Linked DNA regions of Homo sapiens. The protein of the gene in region 4 interacts with the protein of the main gene of each other region in a pairwise test. Each region holds a gene or a part of one and is shown on either strand. Other genes may lie near its edges.

Evidence for each region.
Region 1: the proteins of ZHX1-C8orf76 (region 4) and DLST interact in binary tests that used the Homo sapiens proteins (3 or more experiments, as listed by UniProt).
Region 2: the proteins of ZHX1-C8orf76 (region 4) and ZDHHC17 interact in binary tests that used the Homo sapiens proteins (3 or more experiments, as listed by UniProt).
Region 3: the proteins of ZHX1-C8orf76 (region 4) and NEK7 interact in binary tests that used the Homo sapiens proteins (3 or more experiments, as listed by UniProt).

The regions. Positions count from the first base shown.
Region 1 is NC_000014.9:74,877,485-74,884,924, forward strand, and holds the start of DLST (dihydrolipoyllysine-residue succinyltransferase component of 2-oxoglutarate dehydrogenase complex, mitochondrial isoform 1 precursor), read left to right. Parts: upstream 1-4,431; 5' UTR 4,432-4,469; coding exon 4,470-4,532; intron 4,533-5,106; coding exon 5,107-5,140; intron 5,141-7,440. UniProt on the Homo sapiens protein: Dihydrolipoamide succinyltransferase (E2) component of the 2-oxoglutarate dehydrogenase complex. The 2-oxoglutarate dehydrogenase complex catalyzes the overall conversion of 2-oxoglutarate to succinyl-CoA and CO(2).
Region 2 is NC_000012.12:76,759,177-76,767,114, forward strand, and holds the start of ZDHHC17 (palmitoyltransferase ZDHHC17), read left to right. Parts: upstream 1-4,938; 5' UTR 4,939-5,060; coding exon 5,061-5,153; intron 5,154-7,938. UniProt on the Homo sapiens protein: Palmitoyltransferase that catalyzes the addition of palmitate onto various protein substrates and is involved in a variety of cellular processes.
Region 3 is NC_000001.11:198,152,508-198,160,016, forward strand, and holds the start of NEK7 (serine/threonine-protein kinase Nek7), read left to right. Parts: upstream 1-4,490; 5' UTR 4,491-4,769; exon of another isoform or gene 4,770-4,899; intron 4,900-7,509. UniProt on the Homo sapiens protein: Protein kinase which plays an important role in mitotic cell cycle progression. Required for microtubule nucleation activity of the centrosome, robust mitotic spindle formation and cytokinesis.
Region 4 is NC_000008.11:123,229,269-123,236,288, forward strand, and holds part of ZHX1-C8orf76 (zinc fingers and homeoboxes protein 1), read right to left. Parts: intron 2,490-7,020; coding exon 2,032-2,489; intron 1-2,031. Other genes in the region: uncharacterized protein C8orf76, read right to left, coding at 2,032-2,489.

The DNA.
Region 1 (7,440 bases), on a different chromosome or scaffold from region 4:
AGACCAAAAAAAAATACCCACACAAAAACATGTCTAGATTTTCATTGTGTATTCATCAGTCCATTATTTTGAATTACAACTGAATGAAGAGATAGACAGATAGATGGAATCTAGGTATCATAGGTAACACTGAGTGAATATAGGGCATAGTCCCTATTTTAAGGAGCCCAAAGATGGAAGCATAGGCTATAGCCCCATCTACTAGCTGGCCGATAATATTCATAAACTCATAGGCAAGGATGTGAATGTATGGTTCAGAACACACATAAGAAAACCGGGGGATTTGAGGTAAATGAGCTACTTAATCCTTTCTAAAAACACACCTTTTTTCTTATTTAATTTGAAAGTAAATACATCTTTCATTTTCATTTTTTATTTTTTTCTATATCAGACCACTGCTGGAGACATCTTTTTCTTAATTTAAAAACACAGGCAAAAATGTGTATAGAACATAAGCATATTGAAGCTATAATGAAAACAAGGGGATGGTTAATATATAATTCAGTATAGTAGTGGCTAACTGGGTGTGATGATGGAGGAGACCACAGGGAACTTTTCCATTCCTTCAGCTGGGCAGCAAGTATGGGAATTCCTTTTATTATTTTTCTTTTAAACTGGACACATAGATTTTTATATCCTTTTTAATACGTATTTTACAATGAAAATGTTTTTAAAAATTATCTTTTGGGCCGGGTACAGTGGATCACGCCTGTAAGCCCAACACTTTGGGAGGCCAAGGTGGAGGGGTCACTACGTCAAGAGATCGAGACCATCCTGGCCGACATGGTGAAACCCTGTCTCTATTAAAAATACAGAAATTAGCCGGGCATGGTGGTGGGCGCCTGTAGTCCCAGCTACTCATGAGGCTGAGGCAGGAGAATCGCTTGAACCCAGGAGGCAGAGGTTGCAGTGAGCCAAGATCATGCCACTGCACTCCAGCCTGGCAACAGAGTGAGATTCCACTCAAAAAAAAAAAAAAAATTCTCTTTTGAGCCCTGCCACAATTTATATTCATAAACTCTTGCCCCAGTAGATGGTGCTGTGTCTTGGGAAGCTCTAAATGAAGGAGTGCCCTAGCTTATTGGGTTGCAGCTTGGAGTCCATGGAAGCTCGTATGTGAATCTCGAGGAAATCAATTTCAACTTTTACCCTCTCAATGGGATTTTGTATGAAACCATGCTCGAGTGTGTGTGTGTGTGTGTGTGTGTGTGTGTGTGTGGTGTCTTTAGACTGTAATATCTAAGATTAACTTGGGTGATCACTAAAACTCCAGAAGTGCTTTGCCACATTATAACCAGGCTTGAAGTCTTGAAGCCTCTACATCTTTTTTTTTTTGAGACGGAGTCTAGCTCTGTCACCCAGGCTGGAGTGCAGTGACATGATCTCAGCTCACTGCAAGCTCTACCTCCCGGGTTCACGCCATTCTCCTGCCTCAGCCTCCCTAGTAGCTGGGACTACAGGCACCCGCCACCAGGCCCGGCTAATTTTTTGTATTTTTAGTAGAGACGGGGTTTCACCGTGTTAACCAGGATGGTCTTGATCTCTTGACCTCGTGATCCGCCTGCCTCAGCCTCCTAAAATGCTGGGATTACAGGCGTGAGCCACCGTGCCCAGCCTGAAGCCTCTACACCTTCTATAAGAATCTCAAAAATTGTTAAAGACTGTGAAAGCCTGTAATCCCAGCACTTTGGGAGGCCAAGGCAGGCGGATCATGAGGTCAAGATTTTGAGACCATCCTGGCCAACACCCTGTCTCTACTAAAAATACAGTGACACCCTGTCTGACACCCCGTCTCTACTAAAAATACAGAAATTAGCTGGGCATGGTGGCACGCACCTGCAGTCCCAGCTACTCGGGAGGCTGGGGCAGGAGAATCACTTGAACCCGAGTGGCAGAGGTTGCAGTGAGCCAAGATGAGATCATGCCACTGCACTCCAGCCTGGGCAGCTGAGCAAGACTCTATCTCAAAAAAAAAAAAAAAAAAAAAAAAAAAAAAAGACCGTGAAAGGACTGGGTAGCTATCTAAGAAAAATATTAACAGCAACACTGGCAAGAAATTGCCATAGCCCCTGACTACCGTTCTTGGATTCTTCAGCTGTGTCCACCAATGTTGTAAACATGGAAGTATTTAGTCATTCCACAAATATTTATTGAGTACCTACAGAGTCCCAGGAACTCTGATGTCCCAGGTGTTGTGTTTGGAAAATTCAGGAAAATAGAGAGTGGTCTCTTTCCACCTGCTGCTCTATGCAGCATGGGAGACAGACAGGTAAACAGGACATTACAATAAAATGCAATGTAGAAACCCAGACACAGTGCTTTGGAAGCATAGAAAATGTATCTGTTAACTCTGCCAGAGGGGTTAGGAAGGGATTAAGAAGGAGATTTAAAGGATGACTAGGAGTTCCTAGGCAAATAGGAGGAGGAAACAGCCCATGCAAATAGCTCAGCAAGGCTATGGCCAGTAGTGTGGTTTGACTAAAGCTCACAATCTGTGAGAATGTGGGGAGAGAATCAGAACATAATCAGAGGCCTGATTATCAGGTGCCTGGCCAAGTTGAGGAGTTTGTACTTTATCCTACAAGGGAGATAAACTTTATCTCCCTTGCTTTATCCGACCAGGAGAAGCAATGAAAGACTTTAATCAGAGGAGTGACAGGATTAGGTTTGCATTTCAGAAGGATTTCTTTTTTTTCTTTACTTTCTTTTTTTTTTTTTTTTTGAGACGAAGTCTCACTCTGTTGCTCAGGCTGGAGTGCAGTGGTGCAATCTTGGCTCACTGCAACCTCCATCTCCTGGGTTCAAGCAATTCTCTTGCCTCAGCCTCCCGAGTAGCTGGGATTACAGGCATTCACTACCACACCCAGCTAATTTCTGTATTTTTAGTAGAGATGGGGTTTCACCATGTTGGCCAGGCTGGTCTTGAACTCCTGATCTCAAGTGATCCACCCACCTCATCCTCCCAAAGTGATGGGATTACAGGCGTGAGCTACCACACCAGGCTCAGAAGGATCTTTGACACAGATATAAAGGATGATGGGCTAGAGAAAGCGAGAGCGGAGGCTTAGAACTGCTTAGGGAGCTTTTCAAATAATTCAGGTGAAAGCTACTGAGGAGTTAATTGTGGGTAGCAGCAGGGCAGAGCTGTTTTCTCTATTTCTAGTTAGGACTTTGGCCCATCCTTCCAGAATTTCAGTGGCAGTGCTTTCAGGGTTCAGGTGAGTGAAGGCACTGTAAAGGTCCTGATGGAATTTGAGGCCAGCCTGGGCAACATAGTGAGACCCCGTCTCAATTTATATTAAAACATAAATTAATTAGAAAAATAAAAAATAAAGGTCCTGAGGGCCAGGCAAAATGCCTCAGATAAAGAAATCATCATGAACGGCACCAAGTGGTTCATTCATTCATTCATACATTTATGTGTTACTAATTCAGCCAGAGGTTTAAAGCACATCTTTTTCATTAGGAAGGTGAGCCTTAAAGGTGAATACTCAAGGGGCCTGAATACTTAAGGAGGGGAAGGGGATGCTATATGCTTTCACTTCAAGTCAGCGGGAAGAATGGCACACTCAAAGTGGGGAGGTCAGCCTGGCATGGTGGCACCTGTAGTCCCAGCTACTCCAGAGGCTGAGGCAGAGGGATCGCTTGAGCCCAGAGTGTCGAGGCTCCAGTGAACTATGACCTTGTTTCTTAAAAAAACAGCTGGGAGTTTATATTCTAGGGATAGGGTGACAAACGAACAACTTCCAAAATGCACAAGATGTATGGGGAACAATTAGTTTGGCTGGAATTTGCGTTGGGGGGAGATCAGAAGCTGTTGAGAAATAAGGCTATAGTTGGTGAAGATATCCGACTCGTAAAAAGGCAATGGGATTTAGAAATTCCTGGGATTCTGTTTCTTTGACTCGGGGTTAGGAAGACAGGGAAGTAACAAGTGCCTTTTTTTTTTTTTTTAATAGTTAAGGGACCTGAGACTGGGGGTGGGGGGCAATGTCATCTGCCCCAGGCCACACAAGTGTAAGATCAGGCATGCATGTCTGCCAAGGTTTCAGTTCAATGTCCGTGCCCCTCTTTTGCTCTCTTCCCAAGGTACAGAGGCGGAACGGCGCGGTGCCCTCGGGTCCCAAGAGAGAAGGGCGCCAAGCTCAGAGCCAGTTCTGTGGAAGGGTAGGGGAAGGCCTGACCCCGGGGGCAATGTGGTGGCGGGACAGTCGTATACACCTTCAGGAGAACCACCTCAGGCTGACAGGCAGTGCGGAGGGCCCCAAGAGCGCCTTAGGGTTGCCTGCTCCAGAGAGCGGGACTCCTGCGCTGCAGCCGGGATACTGGGCGCCGCCGTGCGCCCACCCCCTGCCAGTGGTTCGCTCCGAACACCCCTCGTCGGGCGGCGGGTACTGCGGCCCGCCCCACTTCCGGTTGTTGTCCGGCCCTATATCCGGTGTCCGCCCGCCCTCGGCTCCTCCGCCGTGATGCTGTCCCGATCCCGCTGTGTGTCTCGGGCGTTCAGCCGCTCGCTCTCCGCCTTCCAGAAGGTACGGTCTGGCCGAGCCGGGGCCCCGACGGGTGAGGAGTCTGTTGGCGGGCAGAGAGGCGGCCTGGAAGGCAGGGGCGCGGCGCGCCGGCCGGGCCGGGCACCAAGGGCACTGGGACGCGGAGGCCGCGCGGGCTGGGCGGCCCGGGGCCGTGGTTGCCCTCGGGACCGTTTTGCGGAGCCCAGCGGCCCCCTGCCTTCTCCAGGCAGCCTGCGGGGAACGTTTCCTGCTGTACCCCACCCTCCGCGCGGGAGCTGGGGAGCCGCGCCCGTCCAGATACTTGACTCAGAGTTAGGGAGGAGGCGCGGCGGAGTCCTCCGGCGGGATTCGGCGCCCGTCTCGTCTTGCTCTGTTAAAATCAGTGGGTATTAATGAGTCCCGTTGGGAAGTTGAGATAGTTTGGCAGGCCCAGCGTGTTGATTGGGTCTGCCAGCACGGTGTGTTGCATTTACCTTCGGAGTTACGAGATTCACCTGTCACCACCACTGGGACAGCTTTGAGCGTGTACTTAAAAGAAAAAGCTGGGTTTTTTTTTCATCTTGGGTGACGTCGATAATGTCTTCTTTCTCAACAGGGGAACTGCCCTCTAGGGAGACGTTCCCTGCCTGGTAAGTTCTGCCCTTACCGTCACCTAAAATGCTCTCCTCCTGGGCAGAGCAGTATGTGAGGAACTCGGGGGTGCCTGTGTTTCTCATAATATTTAAAGACAGTTTGGTTCAGAGAGTAGTGAGACGCAATGCTACATAATCACGAGCTATCGCTTATTCATTTAGCTCGTAGTTGAGTTTCTACTGTGTTAGGCACTGTGCTAGACGCTAGGGATACAGGAGTGGATACAGAAGTGTACAGTTCTTGCCCTCGTGGAGCTCCTAGGCTAGTTGGATAGTGTCAGTTGCTAAACAAGCCAACAAAGGCAAATTTTTGTAACTGCTGAGAAGGAAACGAGGGTGGACAGAAGAGCCCTTTTTGAGGAGGTGACTTAAAAGTTATGGCCATGGCCGGGCGCGGTGGCTGACGCCTGTAATCCCAGCACTCTGGGAGGCTGAGGCGGGCGGATCACGAGGTCAGGAGATCGAGACCATCCTGGTTAACACGGTGAAACCCCATCTCTACTAAAAAATACAAAAAATTAGCCGGGCGTGGTGGCAGGCGCCTGTAGTCCCAGCTCCTCGGGAGGCTGAGGCACGAGAATGGCGTGAAGCCGGGAGGCGGAGCTTGCAGTGAGCCGAGTTCGCGCCACTGCACTCCAGCCTGGGCGACAGAGCGAGACTCCATCTCAAAAAAAAAAAAAAAAAAAAGTTATGGCTAGCAGAATGTGACGGAGCTAACCCAGTGAAGCCCAGGAGAAAGAGAATGGCATTCACAAAGACCCTGAGGAAGAAAAGAGGTTGGCAGAACTTAAGAGCTGGAAAAAAGGTGATTTGGCCGGAGTATTTTGGTTAAGGGAGAGAGTGGCAAGAGATAGAAGATGGTATAGAGACTGAAGGAGTTTAGATTTTATCCTAGCAGTTAAAAAGAAAAAAGTGTCATCCATAGCTTTTTTTCTGTTATATGCCTAGCCTAAGTATTTGTTGAATGAGTTGACCTTGTTGTGGGCTTTCTTTGTGCCAAGCATTTATATGAGTGCTTTCTGTGAATTTTTTAGTTAATCATCTCAAAACAGTAAAAAGTATTTTCTCTATTTTACAAATGCATAACCCAAGACAAGAGAGCTTAAAAGCCTTGGCCATGGTCACCCACCCAGCTGTTGATAAGCCAGGTCTACCTGACCCATCCTGAACTCTTAACCCACCATGTTCTCATTTACTCATGGACTCAACAGATCATTTATTGAGTGCTTACTATATGCCAGCCACTGTTCTAGGTAACAGGGGTATAGATAGACTCTAGCCTCGAGATTTTATGGGCTAGCTGGAGAGAGAGAGCAAATATACATTTATGCTCCGACAAGGGCATAAATTTTGGTTACTACGAGAGAGGAATTAAAGGGTGTGATGAGAGGGTGGGATGATGTAGACCAGCTTGGGAAGGTTGGGAATGTCAGTAAAGGCTTCCCTGAAGAAGTGACATTTAACTGAGACCTGAATATAAAAGAGCCAAGAAAATGTATTCCAGGCAAAGGGAATTGCTTGTGCAAAGGTTTTCAGACAGGAAAGGACTTGACCAGTGATAGACATGGGAAGAAGCCTGTCTGGCAGGAAAGATAGAGTGGGCTGGACGGTACAGGATCGCGTAAAGTGTGGACTTTATCCTGAGAGTTATGAGAACATAAAGCCCCTAGCACAATGTCGGCTTGTAGTGGACTCTCAATAACAAACATGTTTTTCAAGTGGGAACCCTGAACAATGTCAGTAAACATTTTCTCCACTTCATAGGTGGGCAGGACAATGGAAAGAGCCTTGCACTTGGGGATTTGCATTTGGGCTCAGGGATTCACCTTGGGCTAGTCGCTTAACCTCCAAAAGTCCTACTTATATGAAATGGGAATAATGGCAGATGGTCGTTCCACTTCAGAGAGTTGTGAGACTGTAAAATCAAAATGAGGTCATTATGGGAAAGCTTTTTATAAACCCTAAAGCACTGTACAAATGAAATTTGCTGTAGGATGAACTCTGAATTGGACTCCAGGTTCCCAAAATCAGTGTGAGCCGCCATCTATTCTAGTTCAAAAACATACTATGCTTAGAATTTGCACTGCATAGTCATTGGCTGCTGGACATAAAGGTGACTGGCTTACCTATCTTGGGATGCTTGTGAGGAGGTGGGCATAAGAGAGGGCTAGCTCTCATTTGGTGTGTCCTGAGCCCATGGTTCAGAAAGAGTTGTTAATCTGAAAGAAAAAAGACATAAGAAAGAATTCAGAAGAGGCAGCTGTAGTTACTAGTCATCAGTTGGGGAAATGCAGTTA
Region 2 (7,938 bases), on a different chromosome or scaffold from region 4:
GGAAATGCAAATCAAAACTACAGTGAGATATCACTTCACACCTACTAGGATGGCTACTATGAAAAAAAAAACACAAAACATAAGTGTTAGCAAGCATGTGGAAAAACTGGAACCCTTGTACACTGTAATGTAAAATGGTTCAGCAGCTATGGAAAATGGTATGATGGGTCTTCAAAAAATTAAAAATAGACCTACCGTATGATCCAGCAATTCACTTCCGCTTATATATTCAAAAGAATTGAAATTGGGATCTCAAAGACATAAAACACACTCTCATGTTCATTGCAGCATTATCACAATAGCCAAGATATGGAAACAACCCAAATGTCTATTGATGGATGAATGGATAAAGTGTGGTATATACATACAATGGGATATTATTCAGCCTTTAAAAAGAAGGAAATTCTGCCATATGTGACAACATGGATGAACCCAGAGGACATTATGCTAAGTGAAATAAGCCACTCACTGAAGGCCAAAGGTGAAGTATCTAAAATAGTCAAACTGATAGAAACAGTAGAATGGTGGTTGCCAGGGCCAAAGGTAGAAGGATATGGGGAGGTGCTGTTCAATGGGTATAAAGTTTCAGTTATATAAGACGAATAAGGTCTAGAAATCTGCTGTACACCATTGTGCCTATGGTTAACAATACCCTATTGTGCACTTAAAAATTTAAGAGAGATCGGCCGGGCACCGTGGCTCACGCCTGTAATCCCAGCACTTTGGGAGGCCGAGGCGGGTGGATCACGAGGTCAGGAGATCGAGACCATCCTGGGTAACGGTGAAACCCTGTCTCTACTAAAAATACAAAAAATTAGCCGGGTGTGGTGGCGGGCGCCTGTAGTCCCAGCTACTCGGGAGGCTGAGGCAGGAGAATGGCGTGAACCTGGGAGACGGAGCTGGCAGTGAGCCGAGGTCGCACCACTGCACTTTAGCCTGGGCGACAGAGCAAGACTCCGTCTCAAAAAAAAAAAAAAAAAGAAATTTAAGAGAGATCTTGCGTCAGGTGTTCTCACCACAAAAAAACCTTTTTTTTTTTTTTTTTTTTTTTTTTAAGACAGAGTCTTGCTCTGTCGCCCAGGCTGGAATGCAGTGGCGTGATCTCAGCTCACTGCACATGCCGCTCCCGGGTTCACGCCGTTCTCCTGCCTCAGCCTCCCGAGTAGCTGGGACTACAGGCGCCAGCCACCATGCCCGGCTAATTTTTTGTATTTTTAGTAGACATGGGGTTTCACCGTGTTAGCTAGGATGGTCTCGATCTCCTGACCTCGTGATCCACCCGCCTCGGCCTCCCAAAGTGCTGGGATTACAGGCGTGAGCCACCGTGCCCGGCCCACAATAAAAAAAATTAAATGGACCAAGTAATAATTCATTGAGGATAATAACAACAGAAGAAACGTGGTAGAGGCAAAGAGTAGTAGATGGGGAAAATTCAGGAGGCTTCCAGATGATTCTGCTACCACCTAGTTTTGTAACTTTAAGAGAGTTTCTTAAATTCCCCATCATTTCCTTTTTTGTGAAATGACTAAATCTGGATAATCTCTATGCTGTCTTTAGCTCCAGTAGTGTCTGAAGTTACATATGAAACTATATTTATACAACAATGCCCCATGCCTTCCAATCTGTTTGCTTCTAAATCCATTTCACAATTATTCTCTAACAAGGTCTATTTTTCTCTTTGAATTTTATTCTTTTTTAGCCACTATTCTGCATTCCTCCATAATTCTATGCCATTCTTTTGCCAGTCTATCCAATCAGTGTACTTTCTTAGCTGTCTCCTTAGTCCCCTGAATATATTTTCTCAATTTGAGCTATAGATAAGAACTCTACAGTTATCAAGATGGACTCTGATCATATCTAAAGGGTTTGCTTCAAGATTCAACTTCAACATGTTTTCCTAAGCATGCCTGCTTCTGCTCTTGATCTCTTTCTTCAGTTCTTCATTTAATAACTATTTATTTTAGTGCTCCAGCAGTAAGCAAGACAGACATGGACCCTGGTTATGTTGTTCCAACTTTTCGGCTGCTTTTAGTATTTTCCTTATATTTGAATTGTGGAATTCTCAGGAGTAAAAATATCCACAGAGCCAGGCAGGTAATGAGAACGAGTAAAGCAGGCCATAGACCTGGTAGAGACTGAGCAAGAAGGTCAAGATGGCTTGTTTGCCAGATGAACTAGAACTCTAGATTTTAAAGTGAACTCTGATTTACTGATTTTCGCAGGGAAGGCTAAACATTTCTTTTATGAATACTCCACATCATATACCTGTACCAATATTCCTAATACATGGGTACCTGAAACATTTTCTCCAGTTTTCCATGCCTAGTTTCTTTACACTCTCACTTCATTCAATGCTTTATTAATATTTATGCCACTTAACTTTTTCAGTCGGTGTCCTTTATTTACTCTAATCTTCTATTTCTAGTCAATGCAAGACATAAAGGTAAGGAAGGGCAAGATTCAAAATTGAGATTTTTGGCCGGGCGCAGTGGCTCACGCCTGTAATCCCAAGATTTTGGGAGGCCGAGGTGGGTGGATCACGAGGTCAGGAGTTCGAGACCAGCCTGACCAACATGGTGAAACCCCATCCCTACTAAAAATACAAAAATTAGCAGGGCATGGTGGCGCGCCCTTAATCCCAGCTACTCAGGAGGCTGAGGCAGGAGAATCGCTTGAATCTGGGAGGCAGAGGTTGCAGTGACCTGAGATCTCGCCACTGCACTCCAGCCTGGGCCGCAGAGCAAGAAAGACTCCGTCTCAAAAAAAAAAAAAAAAAAAAAATTGAGATTTTTGGCTGGGTGCGGTGGCTCACGCCTGTAATCCTAGCAATTTAGGAGGCAGACGCGGGTGGATCACCTGAGGCCGGCAGTTCCAGACCATCCTGACCAACATGGAGAAACCCTGTCTCTACTAAAAATACAAAATTAGCCGGGCATGGTGGCGCATGTCTGTAATCCCAGCTACTTGGGAGGCTGAGGCAGGAGAATCGCTTGAACCTGGGAGGTGGTGGTTGCAGTGAGCCGAGATCGAGCCATTGCACTCCAGCCTGGGCATGAGTGAAACTCAGTCTCAAAAAAAAAAAAAAAATTGAGATTTTTGAGTGAAAATGACTTATGTCCATGTTAACATATGACTGAAAACAATTCGATGCTCCAAGGGCCGACCCTGAGACTATCTAGCTGTAAAAGATGACTCCTAGTTTGGGCCAGGACGAACAGAATGAAAATCAGCTCGGACTGAAATGAGAAAAAGTAGTTGTGCTGGGAGGACAGATACAGAAAAAGCCAGCAGCAAAGTTAACTGAGAAACTTCTTTCTCCCACAGCCGTGCAGTAGCTATGACACGCCATATTCACCCCTCTTTGAGTAACTGCTGCTCTTACTAGTGTTGCTACTTTATTACTGGAGGTACCTAATTACTAAATTGCTGTATCCTCAAGACAGCATCCAATCCCTCGTAAATCCCAGCTTTTCTTCATGCCGCCACGGAAACGGCGTCCCATGCAGAACTGATTCTGGCTCTCCTTAGACCCTCCTCAGACTCCTTTGGCGGGAAACTAATCTTACAAAGGAGGCTTCCTCTTTCCTTTTCCAGTGGCATTCCAAGCTTCCTTTGGAGTGCCCTCCCTCCTGATTTACAAATTGGCCTGACGTTATCGGAGTACAGGCTTTTTCCTGGTGGTTTCTGGCCTAACAGGAGACAGATTAGTAAGTACCAGGATCTCTAATAGGTCAACTTTCATGATCTCTGCTAAATTCTCAGCTGTTTAGACTTACAATTTTTAACAGCTAAAAGGAAAGACAAATGCTATCTAAAACTGTCCCATCAGCCCATTTACAGGGAGCACCTCCCCCATACCGCCCTAAAATCCTTTAAAAAATGGCTTTAGTCATTTTATCTGCCTTGCATTTAAGCGAATTCAGTTTAAGTGGCTTCAGTTCTGAATTCCTGGATTATATCGAAATGTTGCAGATGGCGGTGTGTGGGCTTTGAGCTCGTAAATTTTTTGTGTGGTACTAATTCAAGACGATTGAGAGCAGGTTGGGATCATTTTAAAAAGAGTTCTCGGCAGGGTGTGGTGACTCAAGCCTGTAATCCCAGCACTTTGGGAGGCCGAGGCGGGCGGATCGCTTAAGGTCAGGAGTTCGAGACTAGCCTGGCCAACATGGTGAAAACCCGTCTCTACTAAAAATACAAAAATTAGCCGGGCGTGGTGGCGTGCACCTGTAATTCCAGCTACTCGGGAGGCTGAGGCAGGAGAATCGCTTGAACCGGGAGGCAGAGGTTGCAGTGAGCTGAGATCGCGCCATTGCACTCCCGCCTGGGCGGCAAGAGCAAAACTCTGTCTCATTAAAAAAAAAAAAAAAAAAAAAAAAAAAAAAAAAAGGGTTCTCTAGTAGGAAGTCCCGAGTTGTATCCATGTTTTTCCGGGCGTCCCCCGGAGGGACAGGTTGCGGGTGACCTTTTCAAGTGTGGAGGAAAGGGAAGCTGCTTTTGTCTTCAGGAATGATGCAGGTCTCGACTCAAGCCTGACGGGCCCAAACCTCCCTGGAGCTGGCTGACGACTCTGCCCGAGTTCCTGAAGAGGGGTCCCGGGGGTCCCGGAGCGGAAGTGGGAGCGCGTGGGCGTGGGCTCCTCGGCTGCCTGGGGCTCCAGACTTGTGCTGCGTGCGGCTCCGGAGCTCTGTTCTCGCTCCTGAGCAGCTGCTAGGTTTCCCAAGCGACTGTCTCAACCGCCCGGCCGCCTCCCCCGGGCAGCCAGAGCTTCACATCTACCTCCAGCCGGGACCCGCCCCCGAGCCGCGGGGCCCACGCCCAGAGCCCTCCGCCGTCCCCAGCGCAGTGCAGCAGAGCGCGATCCAGTCTGGGGCCGGGCCGCGCTTCCGCGCACGCGCGGAGAAACCCGCGCCCTCCGAGGGGGGAGGGGACAGAGGGGGCGTCACGGGGGCAGGAGAAGAAGGAGGAGGAGGCCCGCGTCGCCTCCGGCGGGGCTCGCGCTCGCCCCGCGCTCGCCCTCCGCCTCGCCCGAGCCCCGGGAGGGTGAAACGCTTTCTCCCAGCATGCAGCGGGAGGAGGGATTTAACACCAAGATGGCGGACGGCCCGGATGAGTACGATACCGAAGCGGGCTGTGTGCCCCTTCTCCACCCAGAGGTGAGGAACCGTGCTGAGTGGATTCCTTGCCCTGCGGCCCTCCAGCCTTTCTTCCCCGGACTCGCCGAGGGCGGCGGCCGACGTGTGTGGGGTAGTGGGACGTGCCGAAGTTGGGGAGGGTGGGGAGGCGAATCCAGGCCTGAGCGCGGCTGCGAGCGGATAACGGGGGAGGAGATAGCGGGGCGGGCCCGACCGGGGCGGGCTCTGGGACGCAGTCCCTGGCTGTGCCTGGAGGACAGAGGTGGAGGTGTTGATGGTTCTGCTGTGTCGCCGCGCTGCGTTTGAGAGCAGAGGCGGAGGGGCCTGGTGTGGTTTTTGAACCGCAGCTTAGACCCTAGTCTTGCTCCAAGCCTCTTGGGGCCAGGTGGAAGCGCGTCTGGTTTTGATTTCTTTTTCCTTCGCCAGGGTGAATGACGGTATCTATTGCTTCCTTTTAGTCCACTGTGAGGGGACAGTTTCATGGGCATAGTGATGTCCTTCCAGGTAATGCCATGGGTAGCACCTCGGGCACCTTGTGTCGGGCGTCCTTTTTTGAGCATTTGTCCTTAAGCGATTAAGAAGAGAGGTAAAAACTTTTGGGAATAGACTTACACTCACATTAGCTTGTCAAAGTACCGTTTTTCTAGGAGCTAGGGGTGGACAGTGCAACACGTTTCCCATCACAACATGAGTGTCTTCCCATGTAAGTAAACAGTGCCCCGCTCCACAGTCAGTCAGTCTGTGCTTGTTTACCTCCGAGTTTGTAGCTGAGCTAGTGCTAGTTAAGGCTTGGAAGCAATTCTTGATGCATTCTGATTTTTAGTGATCCACAGTGATGTCTGTATGCGGCAGCGGCACAGTTTGCTGAAGAACTCGGGTAGTTTTCATGAGGTTAAAAGATGACAGTCGTGTTGTAGGATGAACAAACATGGAAGTCTCTACCTGGTTACTTTGCAATGGAGTGATTCTGTTTTTTTCTGGATTTGGGTTTGTACCATGCCACTAGTTTTTGTTAAAAAGTGAATAATGACAACCATCCTTTTATGTTGCATGTTAACACTCAACCACCCTCTCATTCGTCACTTTGGTTTATCAAAAACACATGGGACAGTTCCTTCGGAATATATACCTGTGCCAGTCTCAGTAGAAAAGGCTACTCTGGGTTTCTGATAAACAGAACTATACAGTAAGACTAAACACTTGTCTGACCAAAGTGGTAACATTTTCAGAACTGGCATTGTAGACATCTCTTTTGGTTCACTTAGGCCCTAACATACGTCAGGAAATAGACAAAGTAGTTTTCAGATGTTGCCTTGAAAATGTTGCTAAGTGATTTCTATTCATCTGTTCCTGTGAAAGTATTCGTGAAAGTATTTCAAACACTTAAGTGTTTATCCAGTTTATTTTTTTGAGACGGGGTTTCTCCCTGTCCCCCAGGCAGGAGTGCACTGACACGATGACAGCTCACTGCAGCCTCTACCTCCAGGGCTCAAGTGATCCTCTCCCCTCAGCCTCCTGAGTAGCTGTGACCACAGGCTCGCGCCACCATACCCGGCTGATTTTTTTATTATTTGTAGAAGAAGAGGTCTCCCTATGTTGTCTAGGCTGGTCTTGAACTCTTGAACTCAAGTGGTCCTCTCACCTTAGCTACTTAAAGTGCTGGGATTACAGGCATGAGCCACCATGCCAGGCCTATCTTACGTATTTTAGCATACTGTTCTTCATAAACCTTTGCTTTGTAATATAGTACTGTTGTTTGCTACTTTAAGAATAATTTTAACTGGCAACAAATCCAGATTATTTGGTGTAGTAGAATGGCCAGTATAGGCTTGAAATTTAGCTACCGATCTTCAGGTTGCCATTCGATAGATAGGATATTACTAGAAAGTCAACCTCCTCATCATTGATAGTGGGAATTGGCATACATAATATATACCGTTCCTTTTTACCCAAGAAGCACAAGGTCTGATTATTTTAATACTTTGGATGGACCTTAAGCTTGTACTACATGGCTGAGGTCTTTCTGCATTTTCTGTGGTTAGTGTGTGCAGCTGGTGCAGACCTGGGGTAGTTCTGCTGCCTCCTAGCAGTGTGTTCTTGGGCAAGCTATGAATACGTCTCTGAGTTCTAGTTTCATCATTTATAATGGATAAAAATAATAGTTAATAAGCTATAGCGAGGATTAACTGAGATAATATGTTTTTGTTGTTAAAATAAGCAGTGTTTTCAGTCTCCTTTGGGAAGAAACCCATTCTCTGTCTTGGTAAGTAATGAAATAATAGTACTTTTAACCTCTTTTTGGAGAGAACATAGACTTTGGGTCAGACAGACTTGGATTCTAATTCTGGAAATTCGGTAACTAGCTAAGTGACCTGAGACAAGTGCTTAATTTCTTTAAGCTTCAGTTGTAATCAGAAAATGGAGATCCTGGCTGGGCTCGGAGGCTCACACCTGTAGTCCCAGCACTTTGGGAAGCCGAGGTGAGAGAATCACTTGAGCCCAGGAGTTCGAGACCATCCTGGGCAACATGGCAAAACTCTGTGTCTACAGAAAATACAAAAATTAGCTGAGCATGGTGGTACACGCCTGTAGTCCCAGCTAATCGGATGCTGAGGTGGGAGGATTGCTTGAGCCTGGAAGGTTGAGGCTGCAGTGAGCCATGATCGAGCAGCTGTACTCCATCCTGGGTGACAGAGCAAGATTATGTCTCAAAAAAAAAAAAAAAAGAAAAGAAAAGAAAATGGAGATGCTGCCTAGTTTACTTGGCTGTAAGGGATTAAGTGAGGCTATATGTTGAGGGTCAAGA
Region 3 (7,509 bases), on a different chromosome or scaffold from region 4:
ATTGTATCACCACAGCTCTCTGTTAGCATAGATAATTGAGGGGTGCTTGTGAACACTCGTGACTGAAAATGCCACCATTGTTGAGGAAATTAGGTTCTGCGAAATGGCTTCATGGTTTGGCTCCACATTAAGGATGAGGTGTACAAGAATGAAAAGGGAAATAATTTCTGAATATATTTTCTTCATTGCTGTGACTTATTACTTACTGCATATTGGCCCTTTGGCTTTTATACTATAAAAAAACATAAGTTCGGTTATATTCTGCTGACCAAAGGAAATCATGACATAAACTGCTAGTTGTACTGTTTCTTTCCTGTTTTGCAACCAATATAAAATACTACATTTCTCTACATTAAAAATATACATAGTGAATTTAAATGCTTCCTCAGTTTAATAACCACTATAAAAATAGCCAGGAAAAGCCACTGGTGGTAATGCCACTATTTTTAACCATGAACTGTATTCTCAAAATACCATAACTAGATAATTGGGACATAGGAGAGTTGTCTTTCTGTGATTTTGAATTCTAGGGGTTTGATGTGAGAATGAAATTTAGGCCGATTTTATTGTTTTAATGGGAAGTTCATCTGCATGATCTATTAACAATGAAATGCAAGAGGCCATTAAAGGTGAAAAAGTAACTTCCTACTATTTTTCATGGGTGTTTTCAAAGTAAGATAAAGATTTATTTTCTGACTTTGTATAGTGACCACAGCCAGGGCCAGAGAAAAGTGATCTCCCTTGAGTTGCTTGCAGTCTGCACTCTGACTTCCTCCTCTTGGCCCAGTTGAGTCCAGACATTTCAACAGCTTGACTAAGCCTCATCACCAGTTAGCTGCCAAATTCAGTGGCTGCCAATACCACTAGTAGCTTTTTAAATACACCTGTTGCCAGCACTATGTTTGAGTCAAGAAGGCTAGACCTTTCTGGTCTACCCCAGTGGCTAAGCTCTCTTTCAAAGGAGAATTATTTTTAGTATTACTTCATCATTTTTCCTTAAGAAAATGTTTTTCTAGCAAGCTTCTCTCCTTACAGAGAAATTGCATTTACACTGATCCCAGTACATAACATCTCGTCTGGGTTAGCCTAGGGAGAAAGAGTAGTTTCAATAATTGATATTACCTGTGGGGCCAGCAAGATATATGAATAACAAAACATAAAAACTTGGTGTAACTGAGAGGTTTCAAGTGTAATAATCAAAAACCACTTACAGCAAAGTTAATCTGATAGTTAATGGTATGTATTGCGTGGTAATTAGGTATAAACACTAAGTACTTCATATAAAGGACTATAATTAATGTGTTTCATGAAGCCAAACAAGCATTTTTGGAGCAAGCTTGGTGGGGAGATGAATAGAAAAGCAGTTAAAGCTAGATTCTGTTCTAAAGATCCTGGACCACAGATCCTCTTTGGCCAGGTTTTTCTGCGTTTCCATTAGCATTTGCTCACAGCCAGGAGGCCAGTGGCCAGGAACAACTTTCCCTATCCACCACAAAGCTGATAAAAAGCTAAAGAGAAAAAGTGTGGTGGATTCAGTTCTGACAACCTTCCAATCTTTGAAACACTGTATGACTATTTAGCTGTAGCTTAGCAGTACTTTAAGGTGAAGAAATAGGACATATCAGAGTATTTCAATACTTTGGGCACTATATAGCCACTGATAAGGATTCTTCCTCAACAGTCTTTTCAGCTAGTAGGACTTCATGAGCTCATTTTGATCCATTTGACTATGAGTCAGTGTTCTCAAGGTGTATGTGTTTTGCTTTTACCAATGGAATATTTGGTCATAGATAAATCTGTAGTTTATTAAAAAACAAAAAACACCAAACTGGCTGGGCACAGTGGCTCACACCACTTTGGGAGGCTGAGGTGGGCAGACCATTCGAGTTCATGAGTTCGAGGCCAGCCTGGCCAACATGGTGAAACCCTGTCTGCACTAAAAATACAAACATTAGCCAGGTGTGGCGGCACATGCCTGTAATCCCAGCTACTCAAGAGGTTGAGGCAGGAGAATCACTTGAACCTGGGAGGTGGAAGTTGCAGTGAGCTGAGATCACGCCACTGCACTCCAGCCTGGGTGACAGAGCGAGAGGCTGTCTCCAAAAAAACAAAAAACAAAAAACAAAAAAAAAACCCAAAACAAACAGAAAAAAACCTTACACATACGTCTGGTCTGAGGTTGACATGTCTTTACCCTAAGGATATCTGGTTATTTTTTTCCTGCAATGTGTGCCTGTGTATGACGCCAGTGACACTGTTTCTATTGACTGACAGATTTGATTTGGTGTGACCTGATAAAATGATCTGGTTCAAATGCCAATTTCATTGGCTTTGTTCTTGCCTCCTTTCTTACCTGACATTCAATACATCAGCAAATCTTGTTTGCTCTTAGAAATGGAATCTCACCATTTTTACCACCTGCACTCTGGTCTGTCATCAATGTATTTTACCTGGATCATTACAATAGTCTTCTAACATCTAGTTGCTCTTAGGCTCAATCTGTTCTCCACAGTGCAGCTCTTCTCTCCCAACCCAAATCAGATTTGGTCACTCCTCCAATGGCTCTCCTTTTCATTCAGAATAAATTTTAAAGGTTACAAGATTCTACAACTATACCCTTCTTGTACCCTACTCCCTCTTCTGATTTAGTCAGCTGCTTTCCCACCGCTCACTGAATTCTAGCCTACACTGACCTCCTGCCTATTTCTCAAACATGCCAAGCCCACTTCCACTTAGGGTCTTTGCATTTGCTGATCCTTCTGTGTAAAATATTCTAACCCTGGGTAGCCAAATGGCTAATTTCTCACTTCCTTAGTTCTCTGCTCAAATGTCAGAGAGGCATTCCCAGACAAACATATTTAAAATAGCATCCTCCCTCCCCATGTCTCCCTACCCTGCTTTATTTTTCTATGACTCACCATCTGGCATAGTAGGTATTTATTGGCTTTTTTTTTTTTTTGGCCTTTCCGACTACAATATAAGCTCTATGACAGCAGGCACTGTATATCTCGGTGAGCTGTTGTATCCTCATTCCTTAGAACATTGCCTAGCCCATTTATGAATATTTGTTGAGCCACATGAATCAAGGCCTCCTTTTGAGATCGTGAACGTTTTCATTTATTTATTTATTTTTTTGAGACGGATTTTCGCTCTTTCACCCACGCTGGAGTGAAGTAACGCGATCTCTGCTCACTGCAACCTCCTCCCCGCCTCGGGTTCAAGCGATTCTTTTGCCTCAGCCTCCCCAGTAGCTGGGATTATAGACTCCTGCCACCACGCTCGGCTAGTTTTTGTATTTTTAGTAGAGACAGGGTTTCGCCATGTTGGCCAGGCTGGTCTCGAACTCCTGACCTCAGGTGATCACCCCCCCCCCCACTTGGCCTCCCAAAATGCTAGGCTTACAGCCATGAGCCACTGCGCCCGGCCATTTTTCTTTTTAAAAATAAACTTTCCAGATCTTAATTTCATGGCTTTAACATTTTAAATGTTTGAGGTATAATCTACTCATTCTTGGCTCTAATCTTTTTGTCAGGGAAGTTAAACTAGTGAGAGACCTATGAACAACAGCAACAATTTAATGAGCACGTCTTATATGCCAAGCTTTGTGGTTAAGCACTTTGCTTTATCTCACTTAATTCTAACTATGGTCCTAGAGGTTGGTATTACAACTAATCTCCTTTTACAGAGAGTTACTGAGACTTGGAGAGGTTAAATAACTTGCAGCCAGGTCACAAAATTAATCACTGAGTTGAGACGACAATTAAGGTATGGCCGACTCCATACTGCCTCCTAGCCGTCTCCTCGAGTAGTTCATGCCCTGTTAACTTAAGTCGTGAAGCTGCTGGTGTCAAAGCATTCCTTTTGCAGTTTCGTGTACTAGGGTTCTGGGTGATTTTGCACATATTTATTTCAAAGATCCTCCGTACCACACCAGGGAGTTTACCTTCTGGAATGTTGTTGAAGCCCCTGTCCTCTATGCTGGGACACTTTCATGCAACGTTTGCTTAGCCAGACTCAGGAAAACGCCTTTTTTTTTTTTTCTCATTTCCCTGCACTCCACATTAAACACAGAGGTAGTTTAAATCACCTGGTAAAAGAAGATGGGATCACAAACGCTGTGGTCCAGAAGGGAACATCAGTAAGTCGGTTCACCGCTTGCAAGTGGGGGCACTTACATATAAATGAAGAAAAAACAAGTTCTTAAAAAGCAGCCGACCCTGGGTTCTTAAAAAGCAGCCGGGGAAGAGGGCTCAGGGGACCGGACGCGGTGCCCCGCACCACGCTAGGCCTGACAACCGGAAGAGAGGGGCCAGGAGGGGCTCCTCCAGAGCGACTTCGGCTCCAGTAGGGAAACCGCCGAGGCTCCCCCAGCTCCAGGGAGCGCCGGGGACGCAGGCGGGAAGCCTCCATCGGGCAGCCGGCCTGGACTCACGACGCGGGGTGGGGCCGGCGCCCGCCCCGCCCCTCTCCTCGGGGATGCCGGGATGTTTACACTCCTGACAGCGGCGGCAGCAGGAGGAGGATCGGGAGTCGCGGGAGGATGGGCCGCCGCTAGGCTCGCACTCCGGACGCGCCTCGCAGTGCGCAGGGTGGGTGCCCCGCGCCTGCAGCGTCCGCCGGGGCGGCGCGGCGGGAGGTGGCCGACAGGCTCCGGGCCTCGCAGCCTCAGCCCCCGGCCCAGCGCGCTTTCCGACGGCGGCGCCGCGCCGAGCCACCCGCCCGCCCAAGGTCTCTCGCGGGCGGGAGAACGGAAAACTCCCAACTTCCTGGTGAGTCGCTGCCCAGGGTTCAGGCGCCCGGACCGGGCAGCTCCTGCCGGGAGGGGCCGCCTGCGGGAGTCGGGCCGGGAGAGGGAGGTCGGGACCGCGCGGGGCGGCCTCCGGGATACCCTCGCTCGGGGTAGGTGGGGCGGGGCGCGCTGCGCTCGAGGCGGATGGGGGTTTCGGTCTTGTTCGTTGGCAGCGGTGGGAGGGGGCGGCAGGAAACTTCATACCTGGCCCCGGCTCTAGAGGCCCGAGGCCGCCAAGGGCGCCGCGGTAACTAAGAAACTCCGTGGCCACGGCGGCGGCGGCAACAGGTCTTTGGTTTCGGGACCCGAGGAACTTAAGCGAAGTCCCGCCTTCCGGCGGATGCTCATTGGCGACGTCGGTTATTTATCTCTCGCGGATTGGTGAAGTCCGTCTGTCAGGATTCGGCAGCAGCCCGACTTAGGAAAGTGAAGTGCGCTGGGAGAGAGTGGGTGGTGGGAGCCGGCAGATAGGGGAGAATCCGAAGTGGCTTCAGAAGTACAGGGAGCGTGAGAGGTCTGTCGGAGAATGAACTTGGGAGAGACTCGGGATTACAAAATGTCGGAGAGAGGGATTGCGAGGCAATAGCGAACATTGCTGGTGATGGTGGCAATGGAAAAGAAATTGAAAACTGAGGCCAAAGTCAGAGAAGGGTAGCCAAAGGAAAACAGAGAAAAGTGACAAGACCGTATGACCGCAGAACAGTGTAAGGAAGCGAGCACAACCTAGAGGATGCTGCCTTGAGAGCTAAAGAACTTCTGTTGCCTCTGTTACACTGTAGGCCTTCACTCCTAAAACCGCAGCATCCTCTATTTAGTCTTGCACTGGGAGCGTACTGGGGTCGCGGAGAGATGATGTATCGTGTTCTCACCTTGCTGTAGTCCTCACTGGGGAGAAATGCTAAAAAATATACTTAGTTTACAGTAAGATACATGTTACTGTCCTTGCGCAATTCTGGTGACTGAACTGAAAATCAGAAATACACAGAAATAAAATGATTATTCTCCTTTGAGGTTACTGAGCTCAAGGATGCAATTGAAAACACCACATTTCCATAGTTTGTAGAGCCTAATGTACCCATCATAATGGGAACCACTGTTTCTAGTTCCTCCTCCAAGGAATTTACAGTTTCAAGGCTATGCACACTCCCTCCAGGCGACAGCAGTATGTCTTGTCAGGTTGCATTAGAGAATTAAAGTACAGAGTATGTGTATTATAAATATGTTCTGTTCAGGACCTTGAGCTGCTGGTGGTGTGGTCGAAGAATGGCATAGTCCTTGCACTCAAAAGCTACAGTATGTTTGGGACAACCGGTCAAACCCTGAAAACGGTGAACAGTAAAACAGGAGATACAGTTAACCCTCTAATGCTTTGTGGCAACTCTTGTTGAATGGCCGCTGAGTATTCTTGGTTTGTAACACTTGGTGATGGCCAAGTGCTCTTGAAACAGCTAACTTAAAATCTCAGCAGTTATTTTATTTCCAGAGGAAGGAATTCTCTCTCCCTCGGCGAGATCCAGTCCACAGCTTGCTTCACTCTTAGAACAGCGGCATCCTCTATTTGGTCTCGCACGGGGAACTTGCTGGGGTAGGGGAGAGGTGTTAGAGCTTTGAAAAAGCTTTGCCTCTCGGAGGAGTCAAAGGGGCAGTAACTGTATGGGGTGAGAGGAAGGCCTGCGAAATAAAAAGGCAAAGGAACCGTTTGAGGAGGCTAGTTGCCTTCTCGGGGCCGGTGTGTGTGCGGGGGTAGTGTTAAGGGGGAGGAAGGAGCCCGGGAGCCCGGAGGACCCTCCCGGAGGTGCGGGCCTGAAATTCCGCTGGGTGCCGGGAGGCTCCGCCCTCCGGAGTACTGACGGCCTTCGCAGCCAATGCGCAGCCAGGACCTCGCGTTCGGGAGGGCGGGTACTTCCTACTCCAGCCCTGGGCTCGGAGAAGGCCGCGTTAGTTCTTTTTCTAGGGATGTCTGCGGAAGGGGCGCCAGGCTGAGGGCCAGCCTGGAGAAAGAAAGAAAGGAAGGAAGGAAGGAAGGAGGAGGGGGGCTTCAGTTTTCCCTGAGCCATCCTAGGTGTCCCGTTTCGTGATTCAGCTGCACCTAGAACTTAACTACTACTGAAAGTTTATAGTAGATTAGAAGCGAAGTTGGTCAGCAGACTAAATATAGTCCATGTGACTGAGGCGGGTTTTACTCTGAAATTACCTGAAAATGAAAACCACTAAATGTCAGAATCTAAATCGTTAGGCGTTTTCACAACTTCTTGGGAATCTTTCCATGGTTAAAAATCTTACCAATTTAACAAGACTAACTTTATTTCTAAGCGTACAGACTCATTTTATAGTCTGAACTAGTATTTAGGTTTATTTATTTAGATAATACATGTAGCACCCACCATTGCTTTCCCCCTTTCATATTTTCCTGTCTGGACAATTTCGAGTTCATTTCCATCCCAGTAAAACAGCACTTACCCAAAGAATGAGGAAAGCACATATGGTATGATGGCAGTGTACTAGTAGAGGAGGGGAGATTTGATGCCTCTATAGCTAACATACCTGATTAATAAATTTAAAAAAAAATTGCATCGTAATGACCAGAAGTCCAGTGCAGTTACAGTTTGTGTAAATAAGTACTTAATCTCATAAGGACCTCATGCCCCAAATCTTTCCTGGTGCTTGCAGTTGATAGTTTTGGGCTCTGACTTACTGTAAACATTTAAGTATTCTTTTTT
Region 4 (7,020 bases):
ATCCTGGCCCTGCACTTCACAGTTGCACCACTTTGGGAATGATTTTAATAGTTTCCTGATCCATCTAGTGGGATCCCAATAGGTATCCCAGAGTCATGAGGATTAAAATGAAATAATGTATACAAAGCATCTAGCACTCAGTCAACTGACAAGGGTTCCTACAGGGACCATTCAGCAGAGGCATCATCCCCTCTGTAAAGGCTTCCTTCTTTTGGCCACGCCAACAGCTCCCTGACGTTGGTCACAGCACTGATATACTATTTAGCACCTGTGCTGGCAGTTACAGGCTAGACATACCATTTCTCTGAGTGAGTGAGGGGCATAAGGGACTGCTTTTTAAATGATCTTTGTGATCCTAGCACCAAGCACATGTCTGGCACACGGTTGTCATTCAATGTGCCTCTGAATTAGTGACATGGTCAATCTAAACAAGCATCCACTGAATACATTTTAAAATTTGCCAAATAGCTGGGAACGGTAGCTCACTCCTGTAATCCCAGCACTCTGGGAAGCCGAGGCGGGTGGATCACCTGAGGTCAGGAGTTCGAGACCAGCCTGGCCAACATGGTGAAACCCTGTCTCTACTAAAAATACAAAAATTAGCCGGGTGTGGTGGTGCACAGCTGTAATCCCAGCTACTCAGGAGGCTGAGGCAGGGGAATTGCTTGAACCTGGAGACAGACGTTGCAGTGAGCGGAGATCACACCACTGCACTCCAGCCTGGGCAATAAGAGCAACTCCGTCTCAAAAAAAAAATAATAATAATAAAATAAAATTTGCCAAATAGATACCACTTCTCAGTAAGCCTCACTGTTAATATTTCTTGAATCCTCCTGAGTTAAAAAATCTGTATATTCTTTGGTACCATTTGAAACATGAGAGAGTCTGCTTCTTCTCTCATCATTTATAGAACTGGTCAAGTGTATTCTCCCTACCCTTCCCTCAAACTCATACTTTAAAGATAAAAAGTACTTGGTATCCCTAGGCACAAACCATGGGAATTCTCTGTAGAATGAATTAAGCATCATCTACTCCCATTATCAGCAATTCAAATACAAGAGCTAATTTTCTTCTTTAGTAGATTTCTGTGGAATATACGAACAGAAAATTCCTTCTTTAAAATATGTCTTCTCCCTTTTTCAGTGTTTTATACATTTTTATTTTCCTAATTTTTTAATGTTTTCTAATCTTAACATTCCATCTTGGACAATGACACAGGTTATATTCCTTTTTGTTTCTGAGAGTTTCATTCTGTTGCCTAGGCTGGAGTGCTGTGGTGTGATCTCAGCTCACTGCAGCCTTGGCCTCCCAGGCTCAAGCAATCATTCCATCTCAGCCTCCTGAGTAACTGGGACTACAGGCACGCACCACCATGCCTGGTCAACTCTTTTTTTTTTTTTTGAGACGGAGTCTTGCCCTGTCGCCAGGCTGGAGTGCAGTGGCACGATCTCAGCTCACTGCAACCTCCGCCTCCCGGGTTCAGCGATTCCCCTGCCTCAGCCTCCTGAGTAGCTGGGACTACAGGCACGTGCCACCATGCCCAGCTAATTTTTTGTATTTTAGTAGAGACAGGGTTTCACCATGTTGGCCAGGCTGGTCTCGATCTTCTGACCTTGTGATCCACCCACCTCACCCTCCCAAAGTGCTGGGATTACAGGCGTGAGCCACCGCGCCCGGCCCGCATAGTTAACTTTTCAAAAAAAAATTTTTGTAGAAATGGGATTTCACCATGTTGCTCAGGCTGGTCTCAAATTCGTGAGCTCAAACGATCCACCTGCCTCAGCCTCCCAAAATGCTGGGATTACAGGTATGTGCTACCACACCAGCTAACACAGGTTGTATTCTTAAACAAATGTAGTTTTGTTTCCAAGTATTACACACTAGAATGACAAACGTTCAACACAACCATAGGAAAATTTCAAAAATATATACCAAATGTCTAGCCTAGAACTTTTTGAAGCTTAAAATTAGAAAATAAAGCCTTTACTCTGAGCTGATTACCAAGCGTTGCTTAAGTGACTCTCAGCTTACCTGGTTCGTATAAAAGAGGCACATGCTTTCAGCTGAGTCTCTATCAACACTGTTTCTCTCTTTTCTGCCATACAGTTTTGGATATTTGTCAGAGCTTTCTCATTTTTCTGGCTATTACTGCTATTCGCTTCCACAGAAAATAAAGAGCTCTCAGGCAAGGTTTCAGGAAAACACAAAAGACAGTCTTTTCCTGAGTGTGGAAAGAAGGATTTGATAGTTTTGTCACTTGAGGTGAAACTGTGCTGTTTCTGAGATGACGCAAGTGCTGCTGAAAGAGCTGGCCCCAGATTCAGGTAAGCCTCTGCCAATTTGCCCCAGTTCCAAGGATTAAAAGGATGCAAAGAAATCAGTTTCTGCAGGCAGAAAATTGTTTTCTCCAAGTTCTGCAAACTTGAACAAATAGCAAGCTGGAGGTAGAGTACCGTGGTTAAATGGTCTGTGTTGGTTGCTTTATTTTCCTAAGGAGAAAAAAAAAAGGTTAAGAAGTTTAAACTTCAAAGCATTTTCCATATAAAATGAGAATGCCTAAAAAACCAAGTTGTATATGTTATAAATTAGAAGTATCTTTCAGTAGCTATACGAGTGACCTAAATATATTTCAATATATCTCATGTTTGAAACCGTAAACCCAGAGAGATATATGCTACCTAGAGAAAGAGTCACCAGCCATTCCCAAACATCCTAATGTCATAATAACTTAACAATTCCTAGATGGTGGCCTGCCAAATGTTCAGCATCAAAAACATAAATATCCATTTATTTCCAATTTTTATTATAATCTTTACTGTCTTCAGCCAGGTATCTGAAAGACCCAGCCACTTTTCTTAGATCCTGGCCTAATGATTCCATTGTAATATTCAAGGCTTTCTAAAAATCCAAATGGTAATTTCCTTGAGGATTTGAACAAACTCCACTTCCAAATTTTATTTGGCTTAGACATTTTAAACAGGATAGCCCTGAAGCTCTCCATGCTTCATGACGCATTCTAATTGAATCCAAATGCCTTCCCTGGTAACCATTACCAAGGTCAATTATAATTTTTGGCCAAAAGGGGTTGCTTAGTTTCCTTTTGATCAGAAAATCCTTTTCAAATCTCCTTAACCAGCGCCAACATCTCTTGCCTAACTTGCCATATGGCAAATGTCCTCTGGGTTAGTAAAAACAGGCCTGCTTTTTGTAAGTTGAAGTTTGCGGAGAGCAGATGGCAGACTCAAATTACCTTCAAGTTGATGTGAGGTCTAAGGAAAGCCTGGCCTGCAAGCGTCCAGATCAGGCTCCCTCACAGAACCACACTGAGCATGAAACATGAGCAAAACTACCTGGTGTACGGCCCCAGGAAACTGTACACCAGCAAGTGAAGGCCTGCGGGCAGCTCTAAATATTCCCACATTGAGTGAAAAGATAGGAGATAAAGCCCCATACGACTGATTTGCTGACACTGTACCTTCCCAAAGACAGAACACATCTCGTTTTATTGTTACTATTGTTCAGCATCTGTCCTTCCCAACAGACCATTTAGCTCCATAAGAGCTTTTGTTCAATGTAAATTCCTAGTACAGAGCACAGCTCCTCGGCCATCACAGATGTTAAATCACGTTTGAGTAATGACTTTTCTAAAGTCAAATCATGTCATTTATAAGGAAAACAACATGTATAGACTACATCTGTAACAAATGCTACCCTTCTTCTGTAACCAGTCTATAGGGCTTTATATTGTTCAAAAACTTTTTTTTTTTTTGAGACAGAGTTTCGCTCTCGTCGCCCAGGCTGGAGTGCAATGGTGCGATCTCAGCTCACCGCAACCTCTGCCTCCCTGGTTCAAGCAATCCTCCTGCCTCAGCCTCCGGAGTAGCTGGGATGACGGGTGCCTGCCACCACACCCAGCTAATTTTTGCATAAAGTAAAGACAGGGTTTTGCCATGTTGGCCAGGCTGGTCTCGAACTCCTGACCTCAAGTGATCCACCCCCTTCGGCCTCTGAAAGTGCTGGGCTTACAGGCATGAACCACTGTGCCCAGCCTCAAAAACATTTTGATATTGATAAAGCAAGTGTGTGTTAGGGTGGAGGCTGTTACTCACAAACTATGATCCTGATGACAGGGTTTTGTTTGTTTGAGATGGAGTCTCATTCTTTTGCCCAGGCTGGAGTGCAGTGGCGTGATCTCGACTCACTGCAATCTCCACCTCCCAGGTTCAAGCAGTCCTCCCACCTCAACCTCCCAAGTAGCTGGGACTACAGGTGCCCACCACCACACCAAGAGAGTTTTTAAAATTGTTATTAGGGATGCGGTTTCACCATGTTGGCCAGGCTGGTCTTGAACTCCTGACCTTCGCCCACCTCGGCCTCCCAAAGTGCTGGGAATACAGGCATGAGCCACTGCGCCCTGTCAATAGTAGGGTTTTGAGAGGTGGATTAGTAAACTCCTTCTGGAAATTAAATTCTATTTAGGCCGGGCGTGGTGGCTCACATCTGTAATCCCAGCACTTTGGGAGGCCAAGGCGGGCGGATCATGAGTTCAGGAGATCGAGACCATCCTGGCTAACATGGCGAAACCCCATCTCTACTAAAAATACAAAAAATTAGCTAGGTGTGGTGGCGGGCACCTGTAGTCCTAGCTACTCAGGAGGTTGAGGCAGGAGAATGGCATGAACCCGGGAGGCAGAGCTTGCAGTGAGCCAAGATCATGCCACTGCACTCCAGCCTGGGCAACAGAACGAGACTTCATCTCAAAAAAAAAAAAAAAATCTATTTAAATGAGTGAGTGATTTTTCCAGAATACTGCAACTCTTTCTGTAACAATAACATGATGATGACAGTTAACATTTACTGAGTGTTTACGCAGTGCCAGGCACTATTCTAAGTGTTTTCCTCATTTAATCCTCCTGACAGTGCTTTAAAATAGATTCAGTAATTTTCCTTATGTTACAGATAAGGCAACTGGGTCACAGAGAGGTTAGATAACTTGCCTGCCATAACGTGGCTGGTAAGCAGGAGAGCTACAGTCAGTTATACTAAAAGTCAAGGAATAAAAGGTACTTACGAAGAGCTGATATGGCCAGGCAAGGTGGCTCACCCCTGTAATCTCAGCACTTTGGGAAGCCGAGGTGGGCAGATCACTTGAGGTCAGGAGTTCAAGATCAGCCTGGCCAACATGGTGAAACCCTGTCTCTATTAAAAATACAAAAAAGGCTGGGCGCATTGGCTCATCCCTATAATCCTAGTACTTCGGGAGGCTGAGGCGGGTGGACTGCCTGAGCTCAGGAGTTCGAGACCAGACTGGACAACATGATGAAACCCCGTCTCTACTAAAATACAAAAAATTAGCCAGATGTGGTGGCGGGCACCTCTAATCCCAGCTACTTGGGTGGCTGAGACAGGTGAATCGCTTGAACCCAGGAGGCGGAGGTTGCAGTGAGCCAAGATCGCGCCACTGCACTCCAGCCTGGGCGACAGTGCGAGACTCCATCTAAAAAACAAAAAAACAAAAACAAAAACAAAAAAACAAAAAAAAATGTAGCCAGGTGTGGTGACACATGCCTATAATCCCAGCTACTTGGGTGGCTGAGACAGGTGAATTGCTTGAACCTGGGAGGAGGAGGCTGCAGTGAGCCAAGATCGCACCACTGCACTCCAGCCTGGGCAACAGAGCAAGACTCCATCTCAAAAAGAAAAAAAGAGCTGATGTATATGTGCGCTGGCTAAACCGACCAGACACTAGATGAGCACTGCATGTACACGATATATTGTTTGTCTCCTTAGCATCGAACCCAGAACCAGGAAAATAGTAGGACTGAAATGTTTGTTGAGTGCTGAGTGGATAAATGAAAAGGAGTCACTTACTACCAGAAAGCCATTTTCTTACCACAGTTACCACACAGGAATACCAACCACTATAAGAAAATGTTGTAATTATTTAAGAAATAAGTCCTACTATAAATTTTATCCAAAAATCATGAAAAGAGGTGAATGAATTTCAGCAGAAATTGTGAACAGAAAATGTTCGAATCTTGATGGCCACCCCGGGACTTGCTGTCTATTTTGTTCAATGTTACATACTGCGACAGGTCCCCCTACAGAATGTGAAAAGACAGTAACCACCGTCACAAAAAAACAGATATGGGCCAGAGCTAGTAACAAAAGGCGAGGGTCCTCAGGTAGAGAAGAAATTTTAAAAAACAAAACAAAACACAGCTTACCAGGAAATGAGAATGCCGTGCAGACACGCAAGGTCCGCTGAGATCATGTGTGAAGCCGACAGAAAGGGGCGAACCCCACGAGCCCGCTTTCCACCTGACAGTCCTGCCCAACAGGTTGCCAGGACGCCTGATGCACAGTTCTGAAAGTCCAGGGTTTTCTGACTGGTGTTTCTCCTGCCTAGTAACCATCCCCAGCACCGGAGACCTGGCATCGGCTGATTGGCAACAGATCCTTCTCTGAGCCACCGAAACAGATTCCCTAAGCTAGAAGGAACCAGAGATGACCCAACCCCTGCCAGGAATCCAGCTGCCACTACCTTCAACAATCAAAGAGGAGGAGGAGGAAGCACAACAGTGACGTGCAAGAAACGCCGAGCGAGCAGGACAGTAGTAAAGGCTACAGAAAGGCACCGGAAGGGCCAAGAGCACTGTTAATTTGCGGACTGGGGAAGACTAGAAATGAACACAATGAAATCCCATCAAGTTAACTGCTCATGCAAACGCTTAGGAAGTCGATTTATCTATCTTTCAGCTTAAGCACTAACCCCCAATTAGTAGAGAACAGAAAAGAAAGAACAAAACACAGCTGTTTTCCATGTTCTTAGAACAATTACTGCCAAAGTTTCCTCGAATTGCAAGAGGCTGAGGTCCTATGCAGTGAAGGCTTAAGCAAACAAAGGTTAGGGATTTCTCTTAGTTAATGAGATGGCAGATGTCAGCTCAATTGTGTGCATACGTTAGGCTGATCTGATCGCTGGGCGGTACATCCACAAAGCTCAAAATCGGTGCCACA